Regions from separate parts of the Homo sapiens genome. Here region 2 is linked to region 1. A link means that fine-mapping ties the variant in region 1 to the expression of a gene that starts in the linked region. Tissue or cell type: tibial nerve. Region 1 holds a variant in brackets; the other region holds the start of a gene. All regions are shown on one strand. Distances are between the middles of the regions.

Evidence for each region. PIP is the estimated chance that this variant, and not a neighbour inherited with it, causes the effect.
Region 2: TAC1 starts here. The variant in region 1 is fine-mapped to the expression of TAC1 in tibial nerve (GTEx, PIP 0.99).

What each region holds. Positions count from the first base shown.
Region 1 is chr7:97,266,323-97,274,021 of GRCh38, forward strand. LOC124901704 (a long non-coding RNA gene) reads right to left here and starts at 6,265. Exons shown (of 3, transcript XR_007060445.1): 1 at 6,135-6,265. RefSeq lists an enhancer at 3,327-3,847. The variant A/C (reference allele first, on the strand shown) is at 4,143.
Region 2 is chr7:97,728,654-97,736,352 of GRCh38, forward strand. It overlaps TAC1 (tachykinin precursor 1), which reads left to right and starts at 3,433. Exons shown (of 7, transcript NM_003182.3): 1 at 3,433-3,542; 2 at 3,951-4,082; 3 at 5,070-5,166; 4 at 5,595-5,639; 5 at 6,173-6,196; 6 at 7,646-7,699. The coding sequence starts at 3,960. RefSeq lists an enhancer at 2,592-3,791.

The sequences.
Region 1 (7,699 bases):
CCATCACCTCAGCTCAAACATCTTTTTATGTTGGGAGCATTACAATTATTCTCTTCTAGCTATTTGGAAGTATACAGTACATTTTTCTTAACCATAATTTAAATATCTGAGGTTCTATATCAATGAGAATTGATGTTCATAGTTAAGCATCTCGGAGTAGAAACTCTACTGGCTATTATCTTTTTTCTTTCTACTTGAATGTTTTTTGAAACATTTTAATAAAAGTCATAAGCATTGATTATGTATGTTCCATATCATAAAAGTATACAGTAAGATGAAGATAATATAAATGTCAAAAATGTAGAGTAGAGTTGGGCAGTTTGGGGGGTAACATAAGGACTTAAATTCCCATCTTTCATAGTTAGGAGTCAGTAGACAATGCCCAAAGGTGTTAATTCAAAATACAGAGTTAAATCATAACTTATTGCTATGTAACCGTCAGAAAATATAAAACCAGAAATAGTTAAAAGAAGTTATCCCTGACATATAACAGAACTGACGTTTGGGTGGGCAGAATTGGTATTTATCTTCTATTGTAAATTGTTTTGTACTATTATATTTTTTTATCAGAAAAAAAAAATTGAAAATGTAATCAGTTACCAGCCAGATAACCTCGAGCAAGTTACCTCTCAATGTCCCAGCCCCCTGCCTGTAAATGGGAAAATAGCAGCCATTTCATAGAGTTGTTGTGAGAATGTATGTGAATTGTTGACCACAATGCTTATGTCATAGTAAATACTCAATACATTGGGGCCACTAGTTTGATTATAATTTAAGAGTTGTAAGTTGGTTCCCCTTTTTAGAGCCCCAGTATTTTCTCCTTATCCTCAACTCTACTCTCAAGCAATTAAGAGCTCTAGTTGAGGGGGGTTTTATTTCATTATCACCAAAAACAGACGACTAGGTATATGTGAAAATGTTAATCATGAATGTGTGGATTTCTTTTTATTTCTTTTTATTTTTTATTGAGACGGAGTCTCTCTCTGTCGCCCAGGCTGGAGAGCGGTGGCGCAATCGCGGCTCAGTGCAAGCTCCGCCTGCCGGGTTCACGCCATTCTCCTGCCTCAGCCTCTCCGAGTAGCTGGGACTACAGGCACCCGCCACCACACCAGGCTAATTTTTTTTGTATTTTTAGTAGAGATGGGGTTTCACCGTGGTCTCGATCTCCTGACTTCGTGATCTGCCCGCCTCGGCCTCCCAGAGTGCTGGGATTACAAGTGTGAGCCACCGCGCCTGGCCGAATGTGTGGATTTCTGACAGGCACATGGTAGTCCTCACATGCTATCTGGAGACCTGCTCTATCTGCTTCTGGCAATGTGAGGGTTCCTCTCCACTATAAGAAACTCAGATGATATGTGGCATATGTGATTTATGATATGTGGTCAAAAAAGGATTGATTTGGAAAAATGTCTACTATATGTTATATGAAAAAATTTAGGACAATATGTATAGTCTGGATTTTTAAATTAAAATAGAAATATAAGGACCCTTATATGTGTATATACATATTTCCTGTAAGCATAGAAAGATTAATTAAAATCAAGAGTTAATTTTATATCACATACTTTCATATAGCTAAATTATTACAAGAAGTGTGTAATAGTTTTATTATTAGAAAGCGCAGTGGCCCACAGCACTCTTTTGAAAGGAAACGTATAGATAAGTGGTCAGGTTTGGGTATGTGTACTCAAGGAGGAAATGTGGGTCAGTGGCTCACAGATAAGGAGCTCAAAAATTTACTCAGAGTTCTTTATTTCCCATGAAATACAGTATTGGTACCAGTTCAGTGCCAATAAAAGTTAATTTGTGAAAAAGAACTATTACTCATTTTGCAACTAAAATTATTTTCCAGATTAAGTCTGTTGCTTCTGTTCTTACCATTGGTAAATCACCTGTTAAGTGTACCAAGCCATGCAAAGACATTTCCTACTGGAACTATTAGCATGCATGTTGCCTAGGAAAGGTCAGTGGAAACATTCTTCATCATTTGAAACGTTACTGTAGGAACCAGTAAGAATACTCTGCCTGAATTATGGAAAACTCTTTCTAGACTTCAAAGGGCTTTTATAGCTCTACTTCTACAGAATCCCCAGTGTTTCTAAGTTGATGAAGTGATCCAAAGTCTGGAGGCTGAGACCATAGAGGTACCTTTGCAAATAAAAGGGTCTTGGCAGGGAGTCATGGGGGAGGCATGTTAAAATCTAAGAGGGCCATGAGAGAGAAATAATCTGCCACTGTCTCCAGGCTACACTCATTTTCTCCACGCATAACCTAGGGTTTCCTCTTTCGGACAACAAGAATGCCAAATGGGAATGCCACATTGAATTTGGTGGTCTTTGGAAGGTGGATGGAAGTGGAAAATGAAGATAATGAGAGGGGAGAAGACCCCTGGAAAAGAGTAATTGGGAAATCACCTACCTTTCTAAGAGTGGAGAGTAGATGCACCATTTAAAAACTCCAGGATATAACCTAGGATTTACAATTGCTATGTCATGATGGTGTCCCTTGGGGGATCCCTTTACCGTAATAACTAGCAAGATTAAAAAAGTATTAGTAAGGTGTTTAGACATTCCGCAATGTATACATATATCAAAATATCATATTTTATGCTATAAACATATAGAATTATGTTAATTATAAAACGAAATAAATTGAGGAATAGACATGCAATGAAATACTGTCAAGCAATAAAAATGAACAACAATTATTCTAAGTGAAGTAACTCAGGAATGGGAAACCAAATGTCTTATGTTGTCACATATAAGTGGGAGGTAAGTTATGAGAATGCAAAGGCATAAGAATGCAATGGACTTTGGGGACTTGCGGGGGAAGGTTGGGAGAGGGTGAGGGATAAAAGACTAAATATCACGTAAAATGTTCACCGCTTGGGTGACGGGTGCACTATGAGCTCAGAAATTACAAATAGAGAACTTATCCATGTAAGCAACATTGTAATAAAATTGTAATAATTTTGTTTTTCTCTATACTTTTCCCATCTAAGTATGAACTGCTAAACACTGTAGCTTAGCTTTCCAGGTGTTTAATCTTTACATAAATGAAATTATTCTTTACATAATTGAGATTAAGAATAATCTCACTGAAAATCTGGAAAGCCTAGCTATAGTGTATAGCAGCTCATATTTAGGTGGGAAAAGTGTAGAGAAAAGCAAGAAAATTATTACCACAAAAGTCAAGTATCAGTTATCCATGGTGGGGAGGGGAAGGTTGTTTTGAGTGTCAAGGAGTAGATGTGGGGGTAGGTAGGGAAGTTATTAGTAAAATAAACGGATTACAGGCGTGAGCCACCACACCTGGCCAATACTTTTTTCTTCCACAACCAAACATAATTTAGAAAACTTAGGAGGAGAAGGAAAGCCTAGTGTTTACCCATATTTTTCCTTACTCTCTTCCTTCTTCATTCCCAATAATCTAGTCCCCCCAAAACCTGAGAACTCAGGATAACCACTAATGTAGTCCAGGCCAAAAGCCAGCTTGAGACTCAGGAAGAATCAATGTTTCAGCTGAGTTCAAAGCCAGGAAAACAGCACAACAAAACACAATGTTCCATTTCAAAGGCCATCAATCAGGAAAACATCCTCTCTTACTCAGAGGTCAGCCCTTTTGTTCTAGTCAGACTATCAAGTAATTGGATGAGGCCCACCCACATTAGGGAAAACAATCTGCTTTACTCAGGCTCCCAACTCAAATGGTAATCTCATTCCAGTCTGAAATATTTGAGGCCAAAGAAAAATACCCAGATAACTCATCACCATGTTGTTCTTTATTCCCATATTCCCTAATGGCCAGCTTATTTTCTCTACCTTTCAGCATTTTCTTGTTTGTCTTACACTGTTTCCAGAGATTTCAGTTGCACTTATCAGGAGGAATAGGGAAAAATATACTTACTCCATCTTTCCAAAAGCAAATATAATTTGAGTTTTGAAGTTAATCTTTTTATCTCAGACACTGAGGGAAAATAATTCAATCACTGGTTGGTCAGAGAGATCATCAACACTAAAAATTCCTCCATTGATTTCACCAAAAAGGTTCTTAGTCTAAAACCCCCAAAACCAATCTCAGGTCACTTTTTCTGTTTTCAAATCTGAGTCATGCTTTTCAGAAAACTTCAGTTTTGTTATTTA[A/C]AATGAAACCTCCTTGAGGTCAAGGGCTACTTTTGTATTTCCATGGTTATTCAAAACATACTCGGGACATACTCTCTTTCCAGAGCTAGACTGAGAAAGATCCAAGAACAAGAAGAGCAGGTAGGAGTTTAATAATAATAGCATGGCTAAGGCTAAATACCAAAAATTAGGCCAGATGATTTTTGCAGAGCATCAAATAGTATCTCTAATTTTCACAATATCTTATAAACTGGCAACAATCTCCTTTTACAACTGTGGAATATTCCAAGAAATTAAGTGATTTCTCCAAAGAAACATAGCTTAGGAATAGCAAGGCCGCCAGTTGATTCTAGGATCCAAGGTTGCTCTTCCCTTTACATTATAAAAATATGGAAAGGAAAAGGAGTGGCTGGGCACAAAAATTATGGCAGAAGAACTGGCAGGACTTATTTACTGCTTAGCTTGGGGTGTAATGAAAGAGAATGAACCAAATACAACTTTGGAGTTAAGGTTCTTTGCAGAAAAATGATGGCTTCTTTCAATTACTAATCAGGAAGAGATTTAATAGCAGGAATCAGTGCTTAGGAAAGTATAGGGCAGGCAAAAGAGTAGAAGCTAGCCTAGGTCTCCAGAAATACTTTCCAGATCCCAGTTCTGACCTGCTGGGGACTTACTACTACAGAGACTATCACTGGAATTACTGAGTTCAAAAGTTTCACATGGATTTTTGACTGTGTGTTGGATTATTTCCCTTAACACCTGTATTGTTCAAGGATCAAAACCGTACTGGCATTTTAGTCTTTATATGAAGTTAGTTCCTGGGAAGGGATTAGGTAATTAGTGCCTTATTTTCTGTCCAAAAGCGAAAGACAATTCCTTTTGGAAGGTAAAATGGCTTTTCCCAGAAAACTGAGGCAGCACGAATACAACTAATGGAAAAATACAGTGAGAGTTTCGGAGTGAAGATTTTGTAAACAGACGATATTAAAATTTTGTTATACCTAGTGATTTCTATCAACCTAAATTTCTAAAAATCAAAATATGTAATGGTATCAAATTAAATAATACAAAGAGCTAAAATTGAGAAGCTGTAGTCTCCCCATCCCTCTCTATCCTACACCCACTCCGTATCATGTATGAATTGAAAGTGGAATAACCAAACAATTAATTGTTAATATAATACCAACTAGTAGTTTGGAGATAAGTGCAGGGTTTATTCAGGGGTCCAGGGTTACTATCCCCAACTGATCCATACACCAGGGAGAATGTTGCAACTTCATGATCATGTGGATTCACTTTTCACGCATTTTTTCAATTGTTTGTAGTAGCCCTGTCCCTGAAAACTCCCTTCTGAAGCAGCCTCTGGCTCCTGTCTGTACCTGCTGCTTTCTAGGCTCACTGCATAACCATCGTCCTAGGAATCCCCGCTCCTGGCCGTTTTGGGTTGGAGCTATACAGTTTTCTTAAACTGTGCTTTCTTCCTTCCCTCCTGCATTTTGAATACATCTTTAAATGACTTTTGAGGAAAGGCTAAATTTTCTGTCATTGCTTGTCTGAAAATGGCTTTATTCATGCTCTTCCTTGATTGATAAAGTCATTTTGTCCCCTTAGAATGCACTGCTCTGTAACGTCAGAGAATCAGCATAGGCAGTTAGCCAAAAACTACTCTCGATTAATTTCTGAGACGCTTCCATCCAGAGGGCTGATTGATACGCTTTGAGTGTGTCTATGGTTAGATGTGTCTATGGGTTATAGCTTTTTCCTATTATAGTACATCTTATTAATAGCAAATTTGCCTTCTTAATAGCAAAAGTCACTGTTATGATTTCTATTGTTACGGTTTACTTTTAATTTGATTTTGAGGTCTTTCTCTCAAGAGTGACCATAAACCAAGATAACCACTTTCTAGGAGAGCCCTGACTAGGAGAAAGTTAGATTCGGGTGTATCAGGCAGGTGAGACAAAATGAGGAAGTAAAACCAAATGCATGAAACACAAGAAGGTTATTACTTACAGATCACATAGAGGTTAGGGGTGTCAACAGGAGGCTGACGGGAAGGCTAGAGGTGGCAGGGAGCTCAACCAACGGGTGGGGAGCAAGAGACAGAGAGAAGAGCTGTGGGGCCAGGTCTTTATTAAGGTGCACGGGTGTTAGCCCTTACACTTTCCTCAGGGGTTGTGAATTTTTTACTTTAAAGAAAACACTTGTGAATTGGGGAACTTGTTTACAAGACTCTGGTGTTAACCATTAAGTTTTATCACGGCAGCACCTGTGGAATATGTTGGGTTTGGTTCAATGAGATGAGGAAAAAACGGGCTGTATTGCAAACAACCACACAGGGAGGGAAAGTTTTAACTGGGCCAAAGGTGACAGTATATGACTGGGCTTCAAATAACTTATGGCAGTCCTAAAAATGGGTGCTGAGGCAGCACTTTATTAAACAAATTGATGACAATCCACCTCTGGGTGCCCTGGCATGATATTTTAAATGTAAGACAGTTGTAGCTTGAGTGGTGAAGATATTGACTGCAAGGAGAATAATATCATTCCCAAGAAAGTAAGCATTCAGTATGGCAGTTATGTTGTTGGTTATGAACTAATAATTGAGCAAAGTATATGTAAATATTAGTGGTATTGTGTCTAGCCAAGGGGAAGGAGTGGTTGTGGTTGGAGATGCAAGTCAAGAGGCTGTGGTAGAAAGCTGGATGGGGTTACAGTAGGAGAAGGCACCACAGAGTAGTCAGTCTTCTCCCCAGGGGGCCAAGGGGTTGTTTAATATGAGATAGGTGCCTCCTGGGGAAAGCAATAATCATCATTAATTTAGTAACCTCTATCAGGTTTTCCTTTAGGCATGGAAGTGTAGCGGTGTATTTTAGAAGAGAACAAGGACTATACCAGGATCACGGGCTAAGCAGACAGTGAGTTCAGAAAGAACATTTTAAACGTGTCAATTTTGTGCCTTAGGACAGGCAGCCCATGGGTGTTGCTGAGTGGAGACTTTAGTGTAAGAGGTGAAGTCTCCAGCACAGGGGGCAAAGTCATCTCCAACAATAAGGTCTTGGGATGGTCTTGCAATGTCATCTTAGGCAATGACAGCTGAAGCATTATTTTGGGCCCTTGCAAGCTTGTGTGGGATTGTAGGACTGGGGTATCCTTTTAAGTGAGTACCTACTTAAGTTGATGTAGGCCTCTGGATTGCAAATCAGTATAAATGCCCAAACCAATAGTGATAAGGCCATCAACAGAATGGTGTGCAGCTGCATCTGACAGGGTGTTTTTTGTTTGTTTGTTTGTTTGTTTGTTTTGAGCATGTGGAAGTTTAGATGTAAATGGGTTATCTATCAGATGAGCAAATGCCTGGCCTATAGGAAAATCTATTATTAATGAGTCCCAGGAAAGTATGTGCCTTCCATCTGGCCTCCAGCCCTTGTGGAATGGGGGCAAGATTGAAAATTTATAAAGATAGGCCAAGACCTGGATAAAATAAACTTTTGGGTGTTGTGAGGCGAGAGATTCCCAGATTTTTTTTTTTTTTAAATTTTGAAAGGTACAAGTTTTAGGTAATGACCCAAGGGTTT
Region 2 (7,699 bases), 460 kb after region 1:
TCATATTGGCACCATGTATTGGGATAAAGCTAATGAATAATCATGTTGATGTCATTTGGAGTATGGAAAAAGAGATGCAAAAGGTTAATTAAAAACTCTATGAGATCCTGATTTGAAAAGAAAGTCGGTATACATTCATGATTATAGATACACACACACACACACACACAGAGAGACACACACACACACATTGTTCTCAGCTCTGTCTGCTGAAAAGGTCTTGAAGCAATGAAGAACTCACTAACAACGTGTAAAAATAAAGCCCAGTTTATGATCTCTAATGGTCATTTTCAATTCTAAAATTAGGGCCCCTTAAAGGCAGATTTCGGGTCAGAAGCAAAACGTATATAACTTTGACCCGAAACATTTTGTCATACCAAAAACAAGAAAAAGCCATCAAAGCCTATTGGCATAAAGTCTCAGGAGTCACTTTGAAGAGTCACCTGCAGGCCAAGAATAGGTCTGAACTTCAATTAGAAGAATGCCTGCCATGGATTGAAATATAGTTGGCCCCCTGTATCCATGGGTTCTGCATCTATAGATTTAACCAAACATAGGTCATAAATATTTAGAAAAAAATGCATCCGTGCTAAACACATACAGACTTTTTCCCTTTGTGTTATTCCCCACATAATACAGTATAACAACTATTTACACTGCCTTTATATTATATTAAGTATCATAAGTAATCTAGAGATTATTTAAAATATATGAGACGATGTGCATAGGTTATATTCAAATACCACACCATTTTGCATCAGGGACTTGAGCATCCACAGGTTTTGATACCTACAGGAGGTCCTACAGCCAATCCCCTATGCATACTGAGTGATGACTGTATGTCAAATGTGTTTAAATCCAGGAAGTCATAATAATCCTAATTTTTTAAAGTGGGTCTTATTAAAAGGTGTTAATTTACCAATTCATTATTTTCAAAATTGGTAGAGAGACATAATCAAGCATTTATCCCATCTTTCCTATATTAATAATGCTTTAGAATAACTAGTTGCTGAGAAACATGAAAGAAACAAGTCTGCCTACCAGACAAATAATGAATGATAAAATCAACATAGCACTGTTTTGAAAATACTAATGAATTAATAGATCTAGAAAATGATAGTCAATGGCTGCTAACAACTCAAAAGGAGAAACAACCACATATCATGTGCTTCCTACCAGAACAACACAACACATGTGAAGTAGTCTCATCAAAAAAAAAAAAAAAGAAAAAGAAAAGGAAAAAGAAAAAAATGTACAGAGGATCAAACTTCTAGATACAACTACCAATTAACAGGAAATAATCGAAACAGAGAAACAAGTTAAAAGGCAATCAGCAAAGTCCAGAATGCGGTACACTCTCCTGACCTGTCTTATCAATAAACTACAATAGAGAGAGAAAGAGAGAGCGAATTACAGATTCAGGGAGATTTAAGAAACATGCAGTAGAAGGAATGTTCGTGTCCCTCCAAAATGCATGTGTTGAAATCGTAACCCCTAAGGTTATGGTATTAGGAAGTGGGGTCTTTGGAAGATAATTAGATCATGATGGTGCAGCTCTTATGAATGAGATCAGTGCCCCGATAAAAGGGACTTTGAAGAGCTCTCTCATTCTTTCCTGCCATGTGAGGATATAACAAGGAGACAATATGACAGTCTGTAACCTGGAAGAGGGCCTTAAACACAACCAGACCATGCTGACACCACGATCTCAGACTTCCAACCTTCGAAACTGTGAGAAATAAATTTCTGTTGTTTACGTCACCCAGACCATGGTACTTTCTTACAGCAGCCTGAACTAACAAAACCAATTGTAATGTATGGACTTCATTATAATTCTGATTTCAAGTAGTAAACTGTGTGGGCCGGAATTAGGAAGCAATGAGAAATATTTGAATGCTAACTGGATATTTAATGTAAGGAATTATTTTATGTTGTTTTAGGTGGGATAATGGCGTGGATATGTTTTTATTTTTTTTAATTCCTACCTTTATACAGACATGCTGAAATATTTACAGTTGAAATGATTAACTGTCTGGGATTTTTTTCAAAATAATCTCAGTGCAGAGGAAACTGGAAGGGTTGTAGATGAAACTTGGAAGTGGATGTTTCTCTCTACTTTTGGATATGCTTATAATTTTCCATATAAAAGTTCTGAAAACGGAAAATAAAATGCTCACATTGTGAGGCTAAGGCCAAAAGAAATCAGAGATGCATGAGAATTTCCAAATTCAGGATTATTTAAGAACAACATAGAGAAAAAAATACTTCTGGTTTGAGTTGCAAAAATTTATTTCTTTTATGCAATATACTAAAAAATCATAATTAATTGAAAAATATAATACTTCATATGTAAAGGGGAGAAAACTACTCCACCAAAGATGTCACATCTTTTAATTCATTTGGAGATCAAAGAAATGTGTCTGCCAGGCAACCAAGGGCTCATGGAAAGGTGTGGTTTCTGTACAAATGCTATTTGTCTAATATTTTGTGCTGTTAATGACTGTCCCATTAGCATCTTCACTACACTTACTTTCATAGAAAGGAGAAACATGATTTATAGAGCCCTTTAGTGACAAGGGTGAGGATCCTACACACTATGTTGCTGGTTTCCTAGTCTTCAGCAAGAAAGTGTAGGAGAGAAGCAAAAAACGTCCTGTTCAACCCCTGCTCCTGGATGTGGCAAGGAAGAGGAGTTACCCGGCTTGAAACAAAAGAAATCCTAAGTCTGACACACAATGTCATGTTTAAATTCCCCTTTCTCCAAAATGTAAAATAAATCTGCTTCCATCTTCTAAAATACTATGGGACTAAACATCCTTTTGTTATGCTAAGGAAAAGCCAGTATTCGCGTTGATTTAGAAGAGGGATGTTCTGGTTATAGAACGATGCTGTGTCTCAGAAACACTTAAATACTATTAAGCTAGAAATAGAAGGGAAAATAATGCTTCCCCGCATCTCCCCTCAAGTGTAGTCCTCTTTTTTTAGCCTGATTTCCGACGAAATGTCTGAATGCCTACAGTTATTTGGCCATCCTGAAAAGTGCAACTTATCCTGACGTCTCGAGGGACGGAAAAGTTACCGAAGTCCAAGGAATGAGTCACTTTGCTCAAATTTGATGAGTAATATCAGGTGTCATGAAACCCAGTTTCGAAGGAGAGGGGAGGGGGCGTCAGATCTGCAGACGGAAGCAGGCCGCTCCGGATTGGATGGCGAGACCTCGATTTTCCTAAAATTGCGTCATTTAGAACCCAATTGGGTCCAGATGTTATGGGCATCGACGAGTTACCGTCTCGGAAACTCTCAATCACGCAAGCGAAAGGAGAGGAGGCGGCTAATTAAATATTGAGCAGAAAGTCGCGTGGGGAGAATGTCACGTGGGTCTGGAGGCTCAAGGAGGCTGGGATAAATACCGCAAGGCACTGAGCAGGCGAAAGAGCGCGCTCGGACCTCCTTCCCGGCGGCAGCTACCGAGAGTGCGGAGCGACCAGCGTGCGCTCGGAGGAACCAGAGAAACTCAGCACCCCGCGGGACTGTCCGTCGCAGTAAGTGCCCGCGCGGTGCTGGCCGCGGCTGCCCGGGTCACCCCGCCCCGCATCTGTCCGAGGTGGCCGCGCTGGGGGCGCCGCTGCGGCGAGGGACAGTGGGGAGACTGGCTTCCCAAACGCCAACGCCCCTCTTTGTCTTCCACCTGCAGAGTTTCCTGGTTTGAAGGTGTGGGTTGGTGGGTTAGGGGGCTGGGGGAGTTGGGATTCAGGGAGAAGAGGGTTGGAGAATCTTTGGGACGCGATTCTCTCGCCTAACCGGTACAGGTGAGACTTCAGTCCTTATGTTTTTGATCTTGGTTCATCCGTTGTGGGGCAGAAAATTCTGTTGCTTTAACTCTTGGATAACCACCCCTAATAGATACATTATTTCTCTCTTTGGTGTCTTCTCCTCCTACCCCTTCCCAGAAATCCAACATGAAAATCCTCGTGGCCTTGGCAGTCTTTTTTCTTGTCTCCACTCAGCTGTTTGCAGAAGAAATAGGAGCCAATGATGATCTGAATTACTGGTCCGACTGGTACGACAGCGACCAGATCAAGGTGAGGCCCCTTCCCAGGACGGCCCGCACCCTTCTTCCTGGGCTCGGGAGCTGTCACCTTCCCACGCAACAGCACCCTAGTTAACGTGGCACGCACCGCCACCACGGAAAGAGGCAGCGGTTGCGTGCGAGAGGATGGAAAGGGGCACTATTTCCCGGGTTCCCCACGGGATTTTGTGCCCACGATTCAAGTTTCTTCCCGAGGGCTGCACCGTCCGGCCCAGGAACTCCCTGCAGTAGGGATGCCCTCCCGGATGAGCCCGAGATCCTCACAAGGCGGGAAATCTCGTAAGATTTCATCCCCCAGGACCTGGGATTTCGGGGGCTCCGGTCCAGCTGCACTGCCCTAGCGTCTGGGCACGGGCAGAGGAGGGCGCCTGGGTCGCGGGCAGCAGCGGGCACACGCGCGAGCTGCAGGGGGATTGGAGGGCCGGAGGCTGGAGGGAAGTTAATTTCCTGCCTTCACGTTTGTTTTGCGGACCTGAGGATGTAGCTTGAAGTCTCCCTTTAGAAACTCGTAGGCTACAGGCGCTGGGGAGCGCGCCTCGGAAAAACGGTGAAAGTCGTCTGTAAAGCGTTGTCACCCTTCCCCACCGGAGCCCCAGCCCCAGATCCCACACACCTGTGTGCATTTAGGGCGGTGAGGACTCTACAAAGCCGGCACCGAGACAAGACAAAGTCAGGTGGCGGCGCAGCAGATGAGGGAAGGTCCCCGGGCTGGGAGGAAAGAGCGGAAAGCGCTCGAAGCTTGAAGACGCCGAGCCAGCTGCTAACTCGCCCTGGCAGGCTTGCGGGGGGCGGGACGCGAGTTCGGCGGGGAGGGGCGCAGAGAGGCAGCGCCTCGGGAGGGACCCCGCTCAGCCCGAGCGTGGGGAAGGCCGCCTCCCCACGCCTCGGGGCCGGAGTACAGCGGGGGGAAGGGCTCGGGTTGCTGGGTGCCTCGCTCTGGTTGCCTTACACGCCCTTTGTCCGTGCTTTTGTCTCCCAGGAGGAACTGCCGGAGCCCTTTGAGCATCTTCTGCAGAGAATCGCCCGGAGACCCAAGCCTCAGCAGTTCTTTGGATTAATGGGCAAACGGGATGCTGGTGAGATAGGCGACCGTCCCTAGGTGTCTTGGGCAGCCCGCCCTGTCTGCTCACTCCTTCCTGGAGTACCCCAGGGTCTCTCGCTCTGAATAGAGATTTCCACTCCAAGAGGGGTGTAATTCCCCAGGCGCGACATTGGCCCACACCGCACTAAGGCACGCACGGGCCCGCGGGGGGAGGGAAAGATCTGGTTCGCATGCCTCACTGTATTCGAGTGAAGCGCTCCCTTGACTAAAGATCCAAACTGACAAAGGGAAGGCACGGGCCTCCAGGGGTAGTACTGCGGATGATCCAAGTGCATGTGGAAGAGGATTTTATAGCATTCCCTGAGGTGAGAGTACATTTGTCTTGGGATAGAAATATCGTTTCCTTGAATTCATCGCACGGTCAGTGGAACATGTAGTTAATGACAATTCGTCTCTTGTCAGATTCCTCAATTGAAAAACAAGTGGCCCTGTTAAAGGCTCTTTATGGTAAACATTCCTATAAATCTTTATTTTACTATTGTGAAAGCACATGTAGGAAAGTGAAATAAAATCTTTTATGGGCTGAAATACAAGATCTGGGTCATGCCTGTTTAATAAAGAGATGGATTTGCGCACTCTCTCTCGGTTTCTCTCTCTCTCTGTCACTCTCTCTGTCTCTCTCTCTCTGTCACTCTCTCTCAGTCTCTCTCTCTCTCTTTCTCTCTCTCTCTCAGTGGGTGGCCAGCCTTGAAGGTGGGATGTGTTACAGTCTTATAGTTAATAAGAGGCCTCAGAAGTCTCATAGTCCTAGGTTTGAATCCCATAGAAGGCACTTAATAAAAATTCCATTTGTTTGTTTAAATATTTAGTTTTTATGATTAATAATTTGTTTAGCATTTATGGTTCTGCTTTATTCCTCAGGATAATATATAGATAGAAAATGTTACATATTTTGAGAATCAAATTATTTTATAAAAGATATAATGTAGCATCTTTAAAAACAAATCTATATGTGTTTGCTAATTTTATCTTTCTTCTAGGACATGGCCAGATCTCTCACAAAAGTAAGTTCAAAATTATTTTGACATTTATCAAATTTAAATGTAAAATTATATTGAATTTCACTTTATTTATCTTACCTTATTTTCTGTCATGACTCTAGGGCTTAATATGTTTAATGAAGACAATATAAGAATGGGGGAGATTCATATTACATCCAGAATATGGTTGTTTAGACATATTGTACTTAGCAAAGAGATGCATTATATTAAAAAAGAAAAAAATGTCTTTTAAGTCCCTTCAATTGTTAGTTTTAGAGAAGAATTTCAATCCTAGGATTAGAAATCTACCATACATATTTCTTCCCAGCCACCCACCCCCTAAGCTTACTTTCACTGTAAACAAACAAACAAACAAACACGAAACCCCCACAAGCATTTATAGGCATCTCCTAACTCATTTTAGTATGCTTGGTCCAATAATGATGTCATTTATTAGGGTCATCCAGCAGCCAATTAAATGGAATGAGTGAGTGAACATGAGTAGAGAATCCATACTAAAAATGAAGACGGTAGAGATGCAGTTTTTTAATCCCCTAATTGAATGGGAAAACTCGATCAGTAAAACATTTCTTAGGGCAGCAAAGATGGCAAAATTGTGGTATGTGAAGGTCATTAAATTTGTTTCTCAGTTAATGGAACCGGAGTTGACAAGAAGTGGAAAGGGTCTATCTTCATCGTATTGTCCACTCACCTATTGTACCCTGTCATGGATTTGGTTCATTGGGTGGCAGAGCAGGCCACATTAACGTAGCAGCTCTATTCTCAACTATTAAAATAAAAACCAAGAGAAATTCTCTCACTAGCATTAAAATAGTAACCTTTCCAAAGAGTTCATCTTTGAAAAATAAATAGTATTCATATTTACTTTCTAAGGATTTGACTTTGAAGAGAATTATATATAAAAATTCTATGTAATAAAAAATGTACTCTGTTCATGTGAAAACTAATAAACTTTTCTGAAAGGAGTATCTTTTAATATCCAATAAAATAAAAACAGTGACCTTTTAGAAGATTATAATCATCAAGGAAAGGAATCTGGTTTAATTAAGGTCTACTTGCTGAGAAGTACAACTTATTAATAACACAAGGAATTATGCTTGGATATTTCACTCTCACACAAATGTGAAATTGACTTCCTAAAAAATCAAACCTAGCTCAAATAACAATATTTTATATAAAATATTTTAGACCCTTACATAACAGATAAAATATATGAATAGAGAGTGCTTGCTAATATTAAATATAGAATTAAGAAAAGTGGTTTCATTGTATTGTTTTAGTGTAATTTATAAAACTTTTAAGGAATCTTTATTTCTTCAGTCTCACCAAAACTTGAAGTAGATAGATATTTATTATACAGACATATATTCAGAAGCTTGCTTTGTTCTGGTTATAATAGTTTGTTTCCTCAAAGATATACATATTAAAATACCCCTAAATGTATTTTTCCAGGACATAAAACAGATTCCTTTGTTGGACTAATGGGCAAAAGAGCTTTAAATTCTG